Linked DNA regions of Homo sapiens: region 1 is linked to region 2. The links come from fine-mapping of genetic effects on gene expression. A gene starts in region 2. The other region holds a variant in brackets. All regions are shown on one strand. Distances are from middle to middle.

Region 1 (8,000 bases), 26 kb before region 2:
GTGCCCAGGTTTGTAGTGTTTTCTAGGTAAAGAAGGATTCCAGGAGATATAGCTACTTAAAGAATCATTAACTTGAGATGGTAAAGAGGGCTCTTTAAAATGTAGAAATAAGAACCAGTAATTCATCGGCAAAAGATGATAATAGCACCAAGATTTCAAGGTGGTAGTTGGGAGCAATGGTGAAGAAGTGATCTATAATCAAATAGCTGCACTCCAAGACACTTCAAGACAATGAAGTCCAAGGGTGAAAAATGTCGGGCATTCATATCCAAGTGGATATGAATATCCTCCTATGCACATAGAAGATATCAACAATCCATGACAACATTCTATCCCTAACCTAACCTGACCACTTCAAAAACAATCCACTAGCATCTGTTGGAGCTGTCACATAAAATGAAATCCATTTGCTATCCCTGATAAAGTCCAGACCTCTCAAATTACCAAAGCCCAGAAAGATTGTCATTATAAAGCCCTACAGTAGTTACATATGCATTTTCCACACCTTTCTTTTAATCACATTAGACTCGTTTATCTTAGTGATTTAAGTGGACCTTAATAGATTATCTATTCTAGTTTTATCTTCAAGAGAGTAGGTATCACCCATTTTATTTTACTTTTGCGTCAGTTGAGCCTGAGTAATGATAACAGGCTTACCCATAGTTTCTGTGCTTTAATATCTCAGGCAAGAACAGGGACCAGACCTCTAAATTTGGGGACTCCTGATAGGACAAAGGTATTATTACTCAAAAACTTTTTTATTGTTCCAACATCACATTCTCAGGTTCCAGGGGCAGCATTGTCAGAATGCAAATTAACATCTGCTGACGGGGGTGTATTTTGCTGATTAAAATGCACAGCAAATACTATTCTCTGTATAAACTCTTAATATCAGAGAGGTCAGAGTCATCACCCCCACCCAACCCCTTCTGCCACCCCAGACAGTCACTCAGCACTGGAATCAAAGTCTGGTGGCAGAATCTTAAGGCAAAGCAAAACGAATATTCACTCAGGCAGATGGGAAAAGTTGCAGATTGTGTGAATGGATTTGTCTCTCCTCCTCTTTCACCCACACTTCTCCTTTCAAAGGATGAAGACTGAAGTGATTGCAACCATGCAGAGTATAACACAGAAGCACTTGTTATTCACATAGGACACCAATTGCCAAAGACCTTTATCTCAGTGCCTTTCGTTAGCCCAGTCTTTTAACTGTTTTTAGGATCTGTTTCTTCTCATAGGATGATGATGACGATAATGGTGGTCATGGTGTTGGTAATGATGTTGGTGATAACGATGATGATGCTGTTGACAATGATTTTGGTGATGATGATGATGTTGATGAAGATGATAATGAAGAGGAAGACGTTACTGGTGATGATGATGCCGGTGATGAGAATGATTTTAATGAAGATTATGATGAAGATGATGACATTATTGGTGATGATGATGCTGGTAGATGATGTTGATGATGATGAATGGTGCTACCATTTGCCAGACACCATGCTAAGTGCCTCAGTGGTTCATAAAGTTTCCTTCAGTTAATTCTCAACAATGCTATGAGGTGGGCATCATTATTGTTATTATTATTATTTTAATTATCCCCATTCATCAGGTGAGGAAGCTGGGGCCTAGAGAAGTTAAGTAACTGCCCAAAGACACACAGTAGTAAAATGTTTTAAATTAGAAATTAAGCTCAGGCAGGCCAGTTCTAAGGGCAGAATTCTAGTACACAAATGCAAAAGTCATAAAAAAAAAAAAAACTCAGAAATGCTCGAAGTTTTGGGAAAGGTGCTATGCTGACCCGTCAGACATGGAGGTGATAATATCAGACAACTTTCTTCAGAAATGAGGGTTGTTTGGAAGAGAAAATTAAATCATGGGTGTGAAGGTGCTTCTAAAACAACTATGTTATATGAACACTATGGAACAGTATTAATTCATCTAATTCCAGTAACACCAATACAAGGCAGTTACTGCTACTATCAACGTGCATTTACAAATGAGGCAACAGACTCATCTTCAGTTAGATGACTTGGCTGAGGCATGGTCGACCTGAAATCCAAGCGCAGAGAGTTCAGTACTTGGGCCTGAAATCAAAACCACTGCACCATGGGTGTTTCTAAAATTATGACTATTATTGAGTTACGAGCTTCTTACGTCACAAAAGTACAGTTCACGTGCTTCATTTTTTGAGTTTGGAGCTGGTCATACCAATACGTAGATGTTCACTTTACCCAGTGATATTTTTGGTCGCCTTCCATCTTAAGTATTTGAGGAACATCCTGCTGTTTTAGGTTGCAAATTTGGAAGTGATCTAGAAAGTCAATGTGGTGATCCAAAAACAACACTCAGGATGTTCCTTGAGCCTGTTTTCCTACTTGCAGTATTTTCTTAGCCATGTATCTCAGTCTTTGGGGACTTGTTCTTTCAGCGTGATGGTGACATGAGCCTATGTGAGTGGGTGGCCATGGTGGGATGCCAGCCAGCAGCAACCCCAAATGCTTTATTGGAAGAAGCAGCCATTGTGTTTTGTACAAGGCAGCTGCAGAGGCGATCCACGACATTCAGAGGTGAAGGAAGGAGATGCAGAAGATGCCGTGGATTCAGTGTTTGGAAGACTAACCATAACCATATCAATAGGAGGGAATAGTGAGAAAGCCCAGGAGCCTGCCACATGGACGAATTCAGTAGGCAACAGGACTCGCTGCATTCATTACACAAAAAGGAGCGAAGGCTTATCCAGATCCAGAGATGGTTAGAATTGGAAGGAAGTTTAAATGTCATATTAGTCCAACTTCCGTATCTTACAGATAAGAAAAGTGGTGGCCAGAAGGGGAAGTGGCTCTTAAAAATCACAAAGCTAATTAGGGGCTCTGCAATCCTGCTGAAGGGGTGTGTATGTGTGGCCTTACCCAGAGCATATGGGGACCTGCGGTCACCCCCACTCCCCTTAACATCCCTCTTTACCAGGTATAAAAGCCCTCTCTGATCTGGCCTCACCATCTCTGCAGCCTCCCTCCCTTCTTGTGTCCACTCCATACCCACAACACTCACTTCCTTGCATTCTCTTTATTTATTTATTTATTTATTTTAGATGGAGTCTCGCTCTTGTCACCCAGGCTGGAGTGCAGCGGTGCAATCTCTGCTCACTACAACCTCCACCTCCCAGTTCAAGCGATTCTCCTGCCTCAGCCTCCCAAGTAGCTGGGATTACAGGTGTCCGCCACCACACCTGGCTAGTTTTTGTAGTTTTTAGTAGAGACAGGGTTTCACAATGTTGGCCAGGCTGGTCTCGAACTCCTGACCTCAGGTGATCCGCCCACCTCGGCCTCCCAAAGTGCTAGGATTACAGGCATGAGCCACCATGCCCTGCCTCCTTGCGTTCTTTAAACCCAAAAAGCCTATCTCTGATTTAGACCTGCATACACTGCTTCCTCTGGCAAATGAGTGAGACCCATATGTTGCACTCAGCAGTGTGTTGCAGCTCTCCTATTGCTAAATTTTCAGAAATTTTGTGAGACAGCCTCTAACTTCCAATTAAACAAATCATACTGAAAGCAAAGGTAATAACTAGTCCAAAATTCCTAATTATTTTGCTACATGTTACTATTATTGGTGCCCTTGGGGTTATTTATGTCTGTTGCATGATGGAAATACTGTATAATGGTGTGTGTCTTTTCTCAACCCCACACTTTGAATATATGTAGCTTCAAATGAGCCATAGTGGGAGTATTTACTACAGAAATTGGCAAATGCTAAAATGCAGGGCTTGAGTTTTTATTTTGTTGACTGTGTAGATTTAAGAAAGTGATGCAAAAATGTTAATAATATGAATTAAGTATGAAAGTTTGCATGCCTGAAGCTGTAACATAATGAGTGGCAGAAAATTTGAGGAAATATTCTTCCAGTATTCGAGAAGTATTATCCAATTCAGGAGAGCAGTGACTCATGTCACTGATGAATGAATGAAGTTCAAATATTCATCTCTGTTGTTTCATTGTCTTCTTAATCATTAATGTAAAAGAAAATATCAGCCAACATTCATGTCAAAACCACTCTTTCTTTTTTTTTTTTTTTTGAGACAGACTCTCGCTCTGTCACCCAGGCTGGAGTGCAGTGGCACGATCTCAGCTCACTGCAACCTCCGCCTCCCAGGTTCAAGCAATTTCCCCTGCCTCAGCCTCCCAAGTACCTGGGATCACAGGCGCCCACCACCACGCCCAGCTAATTTTTGTATTTTTTAGTAGAGAAGGGGTTTTGCCATGTTGGCTAGGCTGGTCTTGAATTCCTGACCGCAGATGATCCGCCCACCTCGGCCTCCCAAAGTGCTGGGATTACAGGTGTGAGCTACCGCGCCCAGCCCACATCAGAACTACTCTTATTCATCAATGAAAATTACATTTGGGCTATGACTATAAGAGTTCAGCAGAAATCAATGAAAGCATTTTGGGAGAATTAATTGGCTATACAGAATTTATAATAAAAAATATTGTATATTTTATTATTATCCATAAACTGTAAACTATATATCTTTCTATTAGTAAAACTTATAATAAGCGTATGTATGTATATACACGCTCTTTTTTTTTAAAGACCCAATTGTTAAACATTTATCCATAGAGCTCTCATTTCTGTATTTTGCATGGGTCTCTACTCAGGGACATCTTCTTTGACCACGTTATCTAAAGTAGTGTCCATCATATGTCTCTATCCTGTGACTGTATTTTTCTTCATATTATTTTTATTCTTTTATCTTTATTTTTTATTTTTTATCTTTATTTTTCTTCACCACAAATGAATACCTGAACTTCAATCATTCATCCATAACATGAGTTACTGCTCCTCAGAA[T/C]TGAATAAAACTTTTCAAATACTACTTAATGCTATGGCATATATATATTTGTTTACTTGTTTATTGTATGGTTCCTTCAACTGAATTGTAAGTTCTATTCTGGTTAAAAGAATCTTTGTTGTTATCACTGCTTCTTTTTCTCTTGTGCTGAGAATGGATGACTGGCATAAAGCAGATACTTAACAACAAAAAAAAAGTTTTTAAAGAATGAGAGCAATAGACCTTCTCAGATTCTCAGGTAAATTCATGGCATCTTTTATTATAAGTCAGTGTAGGCAGGACTCTCAATCCCTTTCATACTGTTACAATCAAAAATAATATTTGCAAATAGTTTAGAAATCAGTATAAGGCAGAAACAAACCAGAGAAAAGATTTCACAGCCATGACTATTAATTAACTTTCAGTATGTTTTAGCAAAAGATGACAAGATCAGAAAATATGTTTCCTTGAGCTCTGCAAGCAAAGCAAGAAAAGCAAAAGATCCACTATATTCAAAGCAAGGCTGTCCAGATCATTGTCGGGGAGCCCACGTGCTTCTAAGTCCAATTCTAAGAGTCCCATTGACAGCCCAGTGACAGGGGAAAGCAATCAGATAAGGAAAATGCTCACCATCTAATGGGGGTTCAAAAAGGCCAAGTGGCAGGGTGGTAAAGATGCTGTGAAGGAGAATGGTGTATCGGGCATTTCCTCTGCATTTGAGAAACAGCTGAGCACCCTGGGAATATTTAGCCCAGGGTGCTATATTTAGCAATGAGAAGACCTGGAGCCTTGGGATGATAAGCTCCTCATATTTGGATAGTGGAGGTCTCTCCTGTAGAAGAGAGAATGAACTTATTTTGTACAAGTTCAGAAAAGGGCTGGTGAATGATAGTGACTAAGAGACAAACTTGACTTTAATTTTTTTACATTTCTTTTAACTAGAACCCTAAGTCAATAAGATGGATTGCCTCAAAATGGAGTGGGCTGCCTATCACTGAAAGTGCTGGAGCACAGGACAGGGTTGAGCTAGAACCTGGAAAAGAGAACCTGGCATTCGGCCTGGGGTTAACCTTGACGGTGTTAATGGTCTCTATTCACCAGTTGATCTTATGACAAAAAAAAAAATGTTCTTTGTCCTTAGGCTTTCTATTCTTCTACTTTATTCCTTAAAAAATTCAACAAAGAAAAACCAAATTATTCCAATTCCTAAAGAGTTTTCTAAAACAAGGAGTATTTTGGCATTTCTTAATATTGTTTTTATATTTTATATTATTCTGCATATTTTTAGTCTTAAAACTTAGTATTTGAGAAAACAGCATTGGTGGCAAAGTTTTTTTTCATGATCCTATTGACGTATAATGTGTAAATCACAAAATTCATGTGTTTTAATTTTTAGTAAATTGCCCAAGTCATAACAATCATCACCACAACCAGTTTCAGTGTTTCAGCAGGTTTTCATGATCCCAACATGGTCTCTCATGTCAATTGCAGGAATTACTGTTTCCATCCACGTAATCTACAATATGTGGTGTTTTGTGAAAGGCTTCTTCTATTTAGCATAATGTTTTTGAGGCTCGTCCACGCTGTAGCAATGGATCCAAATTTCATCCTTTTATGGTCCCTATTGTACTGATATATCACATTTTGTTTATCCAGTCATCGCTTAACAGACATTTGGGGTTACTTCTGCTTTTTGACTGTTACGAACAATGATAGCATCATTTAAAAATATCTCCAACTCCCTACACAAACTCCAAACCAAAAACTCGTGGAAAACATTTATAACAAAATTAGATGATAAGATCATCATGGCAATGCATAGGCTGGAAAATAGGCAGATCTTAAGATTCAGTTTTATATTATATTTAATAAATAAATAGAATATATTTTAAAGTGAGAAAGAAGGTTACAAGACAAGAAGTACAGAAAAATCCCGTGTCTATATTTATCTATAAGTTCATTAATTCTAAGATGCACATTTTTTCCAATATCAATCTGATGTCTCAATGCATGTTTTACAATTAGACTATGATTTACCCTCTCTGTCAAGCCATCATTGTCATTGTACATGTACAAATATTCAAAGCAGAAGCATCATAATTTGCAGAATGGGTGCGAATGGTTTGGAAGAAAAGGAGGGACAGATAGATCACTCTTTCTCCTCTCAATCAAATAGTTGAGGGTAAGAGTCAGGGAGAGTGCGCATCCAACAAGATTCGCTACATTCCTGAAAATCAAATTCAAAATTAGGCAAGCTCTACCTAATGCAAAGCCTGCTCAGAGACCTGCATCATGTCTGTTTTCTAAAAGTATTATTTTGAAGAATGCCATCTCACCAACATCCTTGGTGGCACAAAGGTTATACTACGTGGAAAATCGTGGACAACCATGAGTTGAAGAACAATTCTAAACCATTAGACCCTGAGTGTAAGTCTTAGTAATACCTAACCAATGTATTTCATTTATAGCCTTGTTTATGTATGCACAAGAGTGGCACTTGACAAAAATTGGTCCAATTATGTTTTTAAAAAGCTCTTTCAATTTTTTCAATAAAACAAAAATTATATTTGAAAAGAAAAGGGGACCTGACATCCCAAAATACAAGCCAGTGGAACAAACCACTACAGCCATAGACATGTATGTTATCAGGGTCTAGGCAGGAAGGAAGCTAGAGAACATCTGATAGACCAGAAAATCAGGGAATCAAAAACAGCCAACAAGTATTCACTGGACAGCAAGGCAGGCCAGTCTGAGAATCAATAGCAGCTGGGGAAACATAGTGTCTGGGGAAACATAAGAGAATTAATACCAAAAAAGTCAATTAAGACTATACAAGGAAAGGGGTTATCATCAGGGTAGGGTTTCTGGGGCTGGCAAAATCTGATCTGGGTGGTAATCAGATAACCTCATTTGATGTCTTAAGCTATACAAAATTAATTTATCAATTGAAAAATAAATTTTTAAAGATTACCATGCTACTGGATAAAAAGCAGATCCTGTGGCCTACTCCGGACCAACTGAATCAAAGAGTTCAGAGTGAAGCCAAGGAATACTAAAGAACATTAAAGCTCATGGAGAAGAAAAAAGAAAAAGAAAACTTATGATCAATTTTACTTAAAATTATTTTTAAAAATCAACTGCATTTTAGAGTGAATCATCTGTCTAGTCACTA
Region 2 (8,520 bases):
CGATTGTAATCACAGTTTTCTCTTTTGGAAGAGGATGTGTAATATTGATAAAAGAAAAAAACCTCAAAACAGGAAAAATACATAACGGAACTCACACTTTTCTGGTGTTTATGGTATTTTTTTTTTTAAATTAGCATGGTGCCAACATGAAGAACTATGTATACTTAAAAATATCTTCACTTAAATGCAGACATTTTTGGTCATTTGAATGAGAAAACAAGGTATAGAAAAGTTATCTCCTCTAACAAAGATTTGTGAACTTTACTTGATAAACTTTCTTAAATTTTATAATAATCGAACATTAGTTAAATCCCTTCACTTACAATGATGTCCACTGTAATGTTTCTCATATATTTTACCTATATTTTCATCTCAGGGCTGAGACCTAAAAATGAAAAAATACATTGTTTTTGCTTTTATTGAAGCTTTTCACAGAACAAATTCTGAAGTCTTCAGAACATATTTTTATATCCTATCTGACTGTATTGTGTGTACAGTGTTAAAACTATATAATTGTGCGGTTGTATTCTTCCAAAATACATTTGGCACTGCCAAACCATTCAAATACATGAATTTTGGAAGACATTGGGTCAATTTTTGACAGCATACACAACAGAAAATGTAAACTCCTTTCTGCTGCCTGGGAATTACAGTGAACAACAGTGATGCTAACCTCAGAATTTTTCTTAATTTCATTTTAAAGGGTGGGAAGAGCACCCACACATTTCTTTATTAAATTCCACTGAGATTCTAATGTTGAAAAAAAAATTTATTTCCCAGAACAGCTAGCAGCATTTAAAATATACTTTTGTTGTTGTTGCTGTTTGCTTTTTAATGCATGCCTATTCCTTTACAGAGAGGTGAGGTCCTGTTAGTACTTAGTCACTTGCTTTCCTCTGCCACAAAGATTATGGATCTAAATGACCTCACATAAAATAAATGTGGGGGATGTGAGATGAACACTTTAGGGAGAGTGAGAAGCAGAGGCGCAAAGCTGCTTCAGCTCAATAGGAGATACCAGGCCCCAAAAAACTTCAGAATTGTATTTCTCAGGGAAGGTGCTAATTTAAATGCATTGGTTTTCAAATTCTCTCCTTTTGTCTACTGATTCACTGATTGGCTAGTCAGCAAATGTTTAATGAGTACCTACTTGGTCCAGGAACTACTTGCTTTAAGTGCTAGCTTTAAAACCAAACTGGACCTTCAAGTTTTCTTCACCATTACCCAATTATTTTATTATTGGATGTGTAATATTGATAAAAGAAAAAAAAACCTCAAAACAGGAAAAATACATAACGGAACTCACACTTTTCTGGTGTTTATGGTATTTTTTTTAATTAGCGTAGTGCCAACATGAAGAACTCTTTGTGATTTTGTGATTTTGAACTAAATACCATGAGCAAAGAAATAATGTCTGCACTCTTTACTTCATAATACTTTTTCATGCTAAAAAAAAAAAAAAAAAGAAAATCTGAATTTTCAATTAAAGGGACACTGTTGGTAATTTGCAAATGAGGAACCAAGACCCATGCTAACTAGTTTGTAAGAGTTAGAAATAATATTAACTCCCAATGCCATCCTCTTTAAACTCAAACTTCCCGGCTTCTGAAGAACTTTGATTTAATTTAATTGGAAGAAATGCATGGATCCCCATGAGAAAATGCCCTGGGATCAGCCATGGAAGGAGAGTAGGTAAACATCATGGTTCTTTACTAATTTCTTTCCATATAAAAAAGGAGGTTTCTAGGAAATTTCCAGAAACTTGATTACAATTTCTTCATCACATACTGATTTGCTATATATTGTTTTTCTAGCCAGGTCCATGTTCAAAAAGGGGTGAAGACTTGAGAGTATTACCCAGTGGGGTGTGTTTGTGTGTGTGTGTGTGTGAGAGAGATATTAGGACTTAATGAAATAATACTATATACTATAGGAGTGGGACCAGAAGAGAGAGAGGAAGAGAGAGATGGAAGAGGGATGGGTGAGTCAGTCTTGCCCAAAATGGTTGTATGCTTTGGCTAAATTCTCAAAGTAGTCACTCAAAGGCATATTTGATTTTGCATGTGAATAAACTAATAACTCTTGCTGAGTATCATTGTATTTTATCCCAACCAATCCCTCTCCAGAACTCAGAGCAGCTTTATCATAAATAACAATTATTGGTAAAGGTATAGTGTAACTTTACATGAAAATTGTTTTTTTCAAGGTACATACATCATGATCAAAATTTAATATTTGATGTAAATATTTAAATATCTTAGGAGCAATTATTTGATTCTCTCCCCTTTTCATATGAAATAAAAACAAATGTATGGCATTGCGTTCATGACAGTATTTACTGCTTAGCAAAGAAAAAAAGAAGTATTGAGGCAATTATTTGAATAATTATTTGAAAAATTATCTAATTAAGGAGGGAAAAATGTAAACGGTTAGCTCTAGGACACACCAGAAAACAGTTCATAGCACTTTACTGTTACAGGCAGGGAGGTTTAAAAAAATCTTTAAGATTTGTCATAGCAAGCTTTCTTCTCTTGGTTCTTGAGCTATGAAGTAGTCTTTTTCTACTCAGAGCTAAATCTTTAAAAGTAATACCCCATAATCCAAAAGTTAGGAATTCCTGAGTTTAGCTCTCACAAAAAATAATGTACCATCTTTGCAAAGCATACTGCGAAAGGAGGTCTTTTCAAATGTCTTGTCTCAAATGGGAAACAAACCTGGGACCATATTGAATCCTGCAGTTTTTTTTAATGAGGGCAAGAGTAGGGAAATCTTGCAGATAAGTCTCCTAGCTCAGACCTGGCCAAGTGCTCAGTAATGGGCAGGAGGGCAGGCAGATATCAGAGAAAGCTGCCTGTGTTCCTAACTGCAGGAGGATGGAGAAGAATCTCTGCAATTCCTCAAAAACTTTCTAAAATGTAAGGTGGACAGGTCATTTTTAAATATTGTTGCTGTTCAAGAATTGAGCCATAATGGTCCCTGGCCTCTTTTTTTATAACTAATCATACTTTTAAAAGACTATTTTTTCCAAATTTGTATTGCAATTAATGTGTGCCTGAACTATAAGACATTTTCTATCCTCCTAATTATGAAAGCAGCCTGTGTCAACCAATGGTTTATGCAGAGATTTAAGATTCCAACACACAGTTGCAAAGATCTGAAGGAAATATACAAACTGTTACACACACAAAGCAACATACACAAAACAGCAAGCACAAATATCAGTCACTGCCAACAGTTCACTATCCTAAGCAAAACATAGTTTGCACTTCTATAGAAGCTACTGGCTTCTAGAAAGAGCAAGAGTACCAGCAGTCATATTTAGCGTCTATGGTGTATTAACATATAAAGAAAACAGCAGTCATTAAAGACAACCCAGCTTTTAAAATACATATAAGTCCTTGTCCAGCAGTTAGCCAATCAGAAAGCAGGTCACATCTTGTTAGCTGTATTAAATACACGAAACGTCATGAATTCTCTATGGCTCTGTTGACAATTCAAGCCAACTGTGTTTTATCCCATAGCACAAACTTAATGGAGTCCCTTCCTAGAGTTAAAAGTCAATCTTCAATCTAAAATTCCACCAGAGCTATTCCCTAAAAGCTCTTTGGCATAAATCTTGTGGTATTTATACTCTGCAGAGAAGACTAAATTCCTAGCAATTTCCACTTCCTAAAGTGACTTTGGTGCACCTATAACAAACTCCTTTTCCGAACACTTCCACACAAAGCCCCAACTTACAGGCAGATGGACAATCCAGCAGCAAGACCTGCCAGCTGAGCTAGCACAGAGAAAAAGTCAACTGACATAAAATATTTAAATTGCAGGAGGCGAGTCTGGAGTTTTGCATTTAAAAAGTTCTGAAAGTCCTGTTCTCTCTGCTCCCAGAGTTGCTGGCTGCCTAGGAGGCTGAGTCTCCCTCTCTCAGGCACAAGATCTCAAATATGCAAAAACTAGAGCTGACTTGAAAGCTGAACCAGCTCCTGTCCTAAGGTAGAGTGATAGGGGGGCACGGCCGACAGCAATAGGAGAAAGTCTAGAGTCCCCTTGCCCCAAGCAACTGGTTTCTGATTTTAACACTGAAATATACAAACATGTGTCCCTCCAGGGCTAGTTCTGAGAAGTAGGCAGGTTTACTCTTCTGCCCCTTTTTACCTCGATTTTGGTGACTCTGAAAAGTAAATACAGGTCAAAGCAGACTTCCTCTAGGATTTGTAAAAAAGAAAATATATATATATATATATATATATATATATATATATATATATACACATATGTATATATATATATATATATATATATATACACATATGTATATATATATATAGCCAGATGCAAACAATCACAAAATTCCTTGGAATTATATCTCAAGAAACACCAACAGGACTGACTCAGAGCCTGTAAAACACCAGAGTTCTGGAAGAGCAACATTTCTGGAAACCCGGCATGTGAATCAAGTGCTGGGTTGTCTCAAGATTCCGGCAGAAACTGTCCTCTGCTACAAGAGTTGCTGTGCCTGGAAACCCAGCGTCCAAACTCGTGGATTCATCCTGGCGCTCATTTCCACGTACGTGGTAGTATCAAGTGGGACACTTCCCATAGAATTCAGCCAGAAACCCTAGGAAAAGCTCATGCATAGCTTAACAAAAATACACAAACACATCCCCAAGGTTGAAGTACTTACCTCTGTGCGAGACTGCAGTCTCTTGTTCATCTCATAGATTCGGTACTCTGGCTGTACCATGTATGGTGTATGCCTCCTATAAAATGGGCCGAAAGGAGAAGAATAGAAGGGGTCATGTGGTGTGCTGGACATCTTGCCTGCTTTTCGAAAATCAAGCTAAACAGAGTATCAGTAACGTCCATGCAGAGCACATGGGCTGTGTTCTTCCCAGTACAAAGTAGACGCACGCACACACGCTCACACACACACAGAGGCAGGCAGGCAGGCAGGCTGAACACGCTGGCTGGGAACTGCTGTCGGAGCCCTCTATAGCAGGAGAGGAGAGGGAGAGGAGAGGAGGGAGGGAAAGAGGGAGGGAGGGAGGGAGCACGGGAGAGGAGGGAGAGGGAGAGAGCAGGAGCTCCAGAGAGGGAGGGAGGTTGGTATGGAGGAAGGGAGGGAAGAAGGGAGGGAGGGAGGGAGGGAGGAGGGAGGGAGGGAGGGGGAGAGAGAGAGAGAGAGAGAGAGAGAGAGAGAGAGAGAGAGAGAGAGAGAGAGAGAGAGAGAGAGGAGCTGGATAGCTTTAGGCACCACTGCTTGTTTTTAAAGAAGCAGTTTGTGGAGAGGTCATTTCCTGTCCACATTGTAGACTAGTTCACAAATATAATTCTCCTCACAGTCTGACAAGAGGTCTAAGGTTTGGTTTTAATTTTTTTCCTCCAGCCAGGACCCTTCACAACCTGATTGCTAAGCTTGTTAGCATAGAGGTGGTCTAACCGCTACATGAGCCGCTCACCCCTGACAACCACACTGTTGTAATGTATCAGAAATGTTGATTACTACAAAATACAGAAACACGGGCACTGTGGTGCCCCGAATTGGGACCGGTGATTCACTCACATGCAGAGATTTATTTCAGCACTAATCTCCCTATGTAGTTTTGCTTTACTTGCTGTTGTTCCAAGGGCTGTTATATTCTTTGCCCTCCACTCCATCTCACTCCCATCTCTCCCCACTCACCCCTCTTCCCAGCCACCTCCCTCTTCTCCAAAGACTTCATTCAGGCCCTTAAGGTGCCTGGGCATTTTCAGGTAAAAACAGTCGTTCTGAATGTGGAAGGTATAAAATACACTTAAGGAGAGCAATGGTCTTTTTTCCCAGGAAGGAAAAACAAACAAACAAACAAACAAAAAACCCAAACAGACCTCCCAATAAGACAGGAAAAGCAAAGAAGGAGAAAACTGCCACAAAAATGACCACGGAAAATTTGGTTGAGAAGGAAATTGCAAATAATTGAATGGATCATCCCCAGATAACATGTCCAACTCTTATGGAGACAAAGTCTGTATTTTCCAAGATTGGTCAAGTAAACAAATATTTTCCCAACTGTGGTATATGATAACCATAAGAAATCCCAACAGCCCATGGAAGGGGAAAATCTCTATAGAGAATTAAACAATCTATAAAATAATCAAATTCTGCTAGAACCCACTATAACCAGAGATACGACACTTAAACAAAGCCCAGCCACACAAAATTTAAATGTATTGAGCTAACACCTAGGTAGGTCAGTGGTATTAAGGAAATAAAGCAAAGGACCACCAAAAAGCATAATGAATTCAAGACCTGAATGCAAATGCATGCAAATGAGACATTTCTTCTTTTTAATAAGCAGATTAATTAACTTTCTGCCCCAATCATGGCTTGGGTATCTCCAAGTCACTAGCCAACAGGGGATAGAGTATTGCTAATTCTGCAATTTACACTCTTAAAAATACTCAGACACAGAAAAGTGTATTGCTGTCTTGATCAGTCCTTCTTCATAATTGCATGAAATATTTGCTGAGTCCACCCCAAACTTCCAGCAGCGCAGCCTAACACACTAATGTCGCTTCCCAGGATGAGATTAGGGTAGGTATTACACTAAGGCTGCTTGGAACTTGCGCTAGGAGACCCCAAGGCAGGCGAGAATGCTTGGTTTCAGGTTTCATTACAAATCCGAAAGCTGGACCAAATTTGCTGCAAGGTTTGTCAAAACACACAACCTTCTAAAGACAGGATTTCAAACAATTTTGGCATGATTTACGTTTTGGTATGGCAGCCACTGCAAAACCTAATGGTTCCTTATGTTTAAACTCTCAAACTAAAGACATTCTGAAAGTTTAGTGTCTGCCTGAGTTTGTGTTAATGTGACCATTTCAGTGCAAGAATGAAAGTAACACCTAGGCAGGCCTGTGCAGGCCAATAGTAACAAAAAAAAATGAAACAGTTCAAAAATCCATTTAGGAAGGGAATCCCTCTCTGAATAAGGTTCTGGTTTGCTCTCATTTGTTTCTGCAGACCATTGCCAATTATAATTGGAAATATTTCTTGCCATTAATAGTGAAAGACTCTCATTTCAGAACTATCTGAAACTTGATAATGCTGATCCATATCCCTGATTCTCATCCCCGTTATTTCAGGAGTCTCCGAACTGGTCCCCCTGCCCACAGATTCACAGTCCTCTTCTAACTTGTGGTCTGTCCTTATTCAAATGAGAATGTGGATTTCAGATAAGTGAAAGCGATCATGTCCCATGTTTTCCCCCTCAGTGTTTCCCTGCTGCCAGAAGGAAAACGTGCAAGTTCCTTAGGAACATGGCATACAGGGCTCGGTAAGACCCGCACTTCTGTGCTGTCTCTTTCTCCCTCTGTCACATACACACACACACTCACACACACTCATTCATTTACTCATTTGTGTGTTCATTCATTTATTTATTTGCTATACTTGATCTTCCTAAACTTGCAATCTTTCTTATGCATGGCCACATTTGTACTTCTGGCCCTAGTTTACCTACAAACTGCTACTTATCCTTCTATTAAATTAAATTGTCTCCTCCATAAATCTTTTTAAATTACACATTCATTTGTTTATTTATTCAACAAATATTCCATTCACAGTGGATAGAGGCAGAGCCAACAGCAGGGCCAGAGCACGTTTCAACCCTAGCTCCACCATCTAGTTGTCGCGTGAACCTGAGCAAAGGACTCAGTCTCTCTGCACCTCAGTTATCTCATTGCAAGATGAGGACAATGATAGAAACTAGTCTATAAGATTGTTGCTAAGGATTAGCAAATACATCCAAATGCATTAGAACCCTGTCATCTAAACGCTCAAATAATAACATGATAGGCCGGGTGCAGTGGCTCACGCCTGTAATCCCAGCACTTTGGGAGGCCGAGGCGGGCGGATCACGAGGTTAGGAGTTTGAGACCAGCCTGACCAACATGGTGAAACCCTGTCTCTACTAAAAATACAAAAATTAGCCGGGTGTGGTGGCACGTGCCTGACCAGCTACTCAGGTGGCTGAGGCAGGAGAACTCCTTGAACCTGGGAGATGGAGGTTGCATTGAGCCGAGATCGTGCAATTGCACTCCAGCCTGGGTGACAGACCGAGACTCCGTCTCCAAAAAAAAAAAAAAAAAAAAAAAAGGAAAAGAAAAACTAGCTGGACATGGTAGTGGGTGCGTGTAATCCCAGCTACTCAGGAGGCTGAGGCAGGAGAATCGCTTGAACCTGGGAAGTGGAGGTTGCAGTGAGCCGAGATCTCACCACTGCACACCATCCCGGGCAACAGAGCAAGACCCTGTCTCAAATAATAATAAAAATAATAATAATAACATGATTATTAGGTACCTGATATCTGCTTAGGTTCTAGGGATCATTGGGAGGCCAAGGTGACATAGCACACAGGCTACCTGCCTTCCTGCCCCTTGCCATCTAGTGAGGGCAAGGGAAAGACAGTGTAGAAGAGCTAGTAAATATTTGGGAACATAATTTTAAACTATAGTGCAAGCTCTGTGCGGTGGCTCACGCCT

Evidence for each region.
Region 1: its variant is fine-mapped to the expression of LDB2 in whole blood (TOPMed, PIP 0.98).

What each region holds. Positions count from the first base shown.
Region 1 is chr4:16,867,560-16,875,559 of GRCh38, forward strand. The region is part of intron 1 of LDB2 (LIM domain binding 2); the gene reads right to left. Among named protein-coding and RNA genes, the nearest start is that of LDB2, 27 kb to the right of the region's middle. RefSeq lists an enhancer at 885-1,444. The variant T/C (reference allele first, on the strand shown) is at 4,850.
Region 2 is chr4:16,893,673-16,902,192 of GRCh38, forward strand. It overlaps LDB2 (LIM domain binding 2), which reads right to left and starts at 4,973. Exons shown (of 8, transcript NM_001290.5): 1 at 4,682-4,973. The coding sequence starts at 4,813. It overlaps LOC107986188 (a long non-coding RNA gene), which reads right to left and starts at 1,448. Exons shown (of 2, transcript XR_001741396.2): 1 at 1,274-1,448; 2 at 1-62.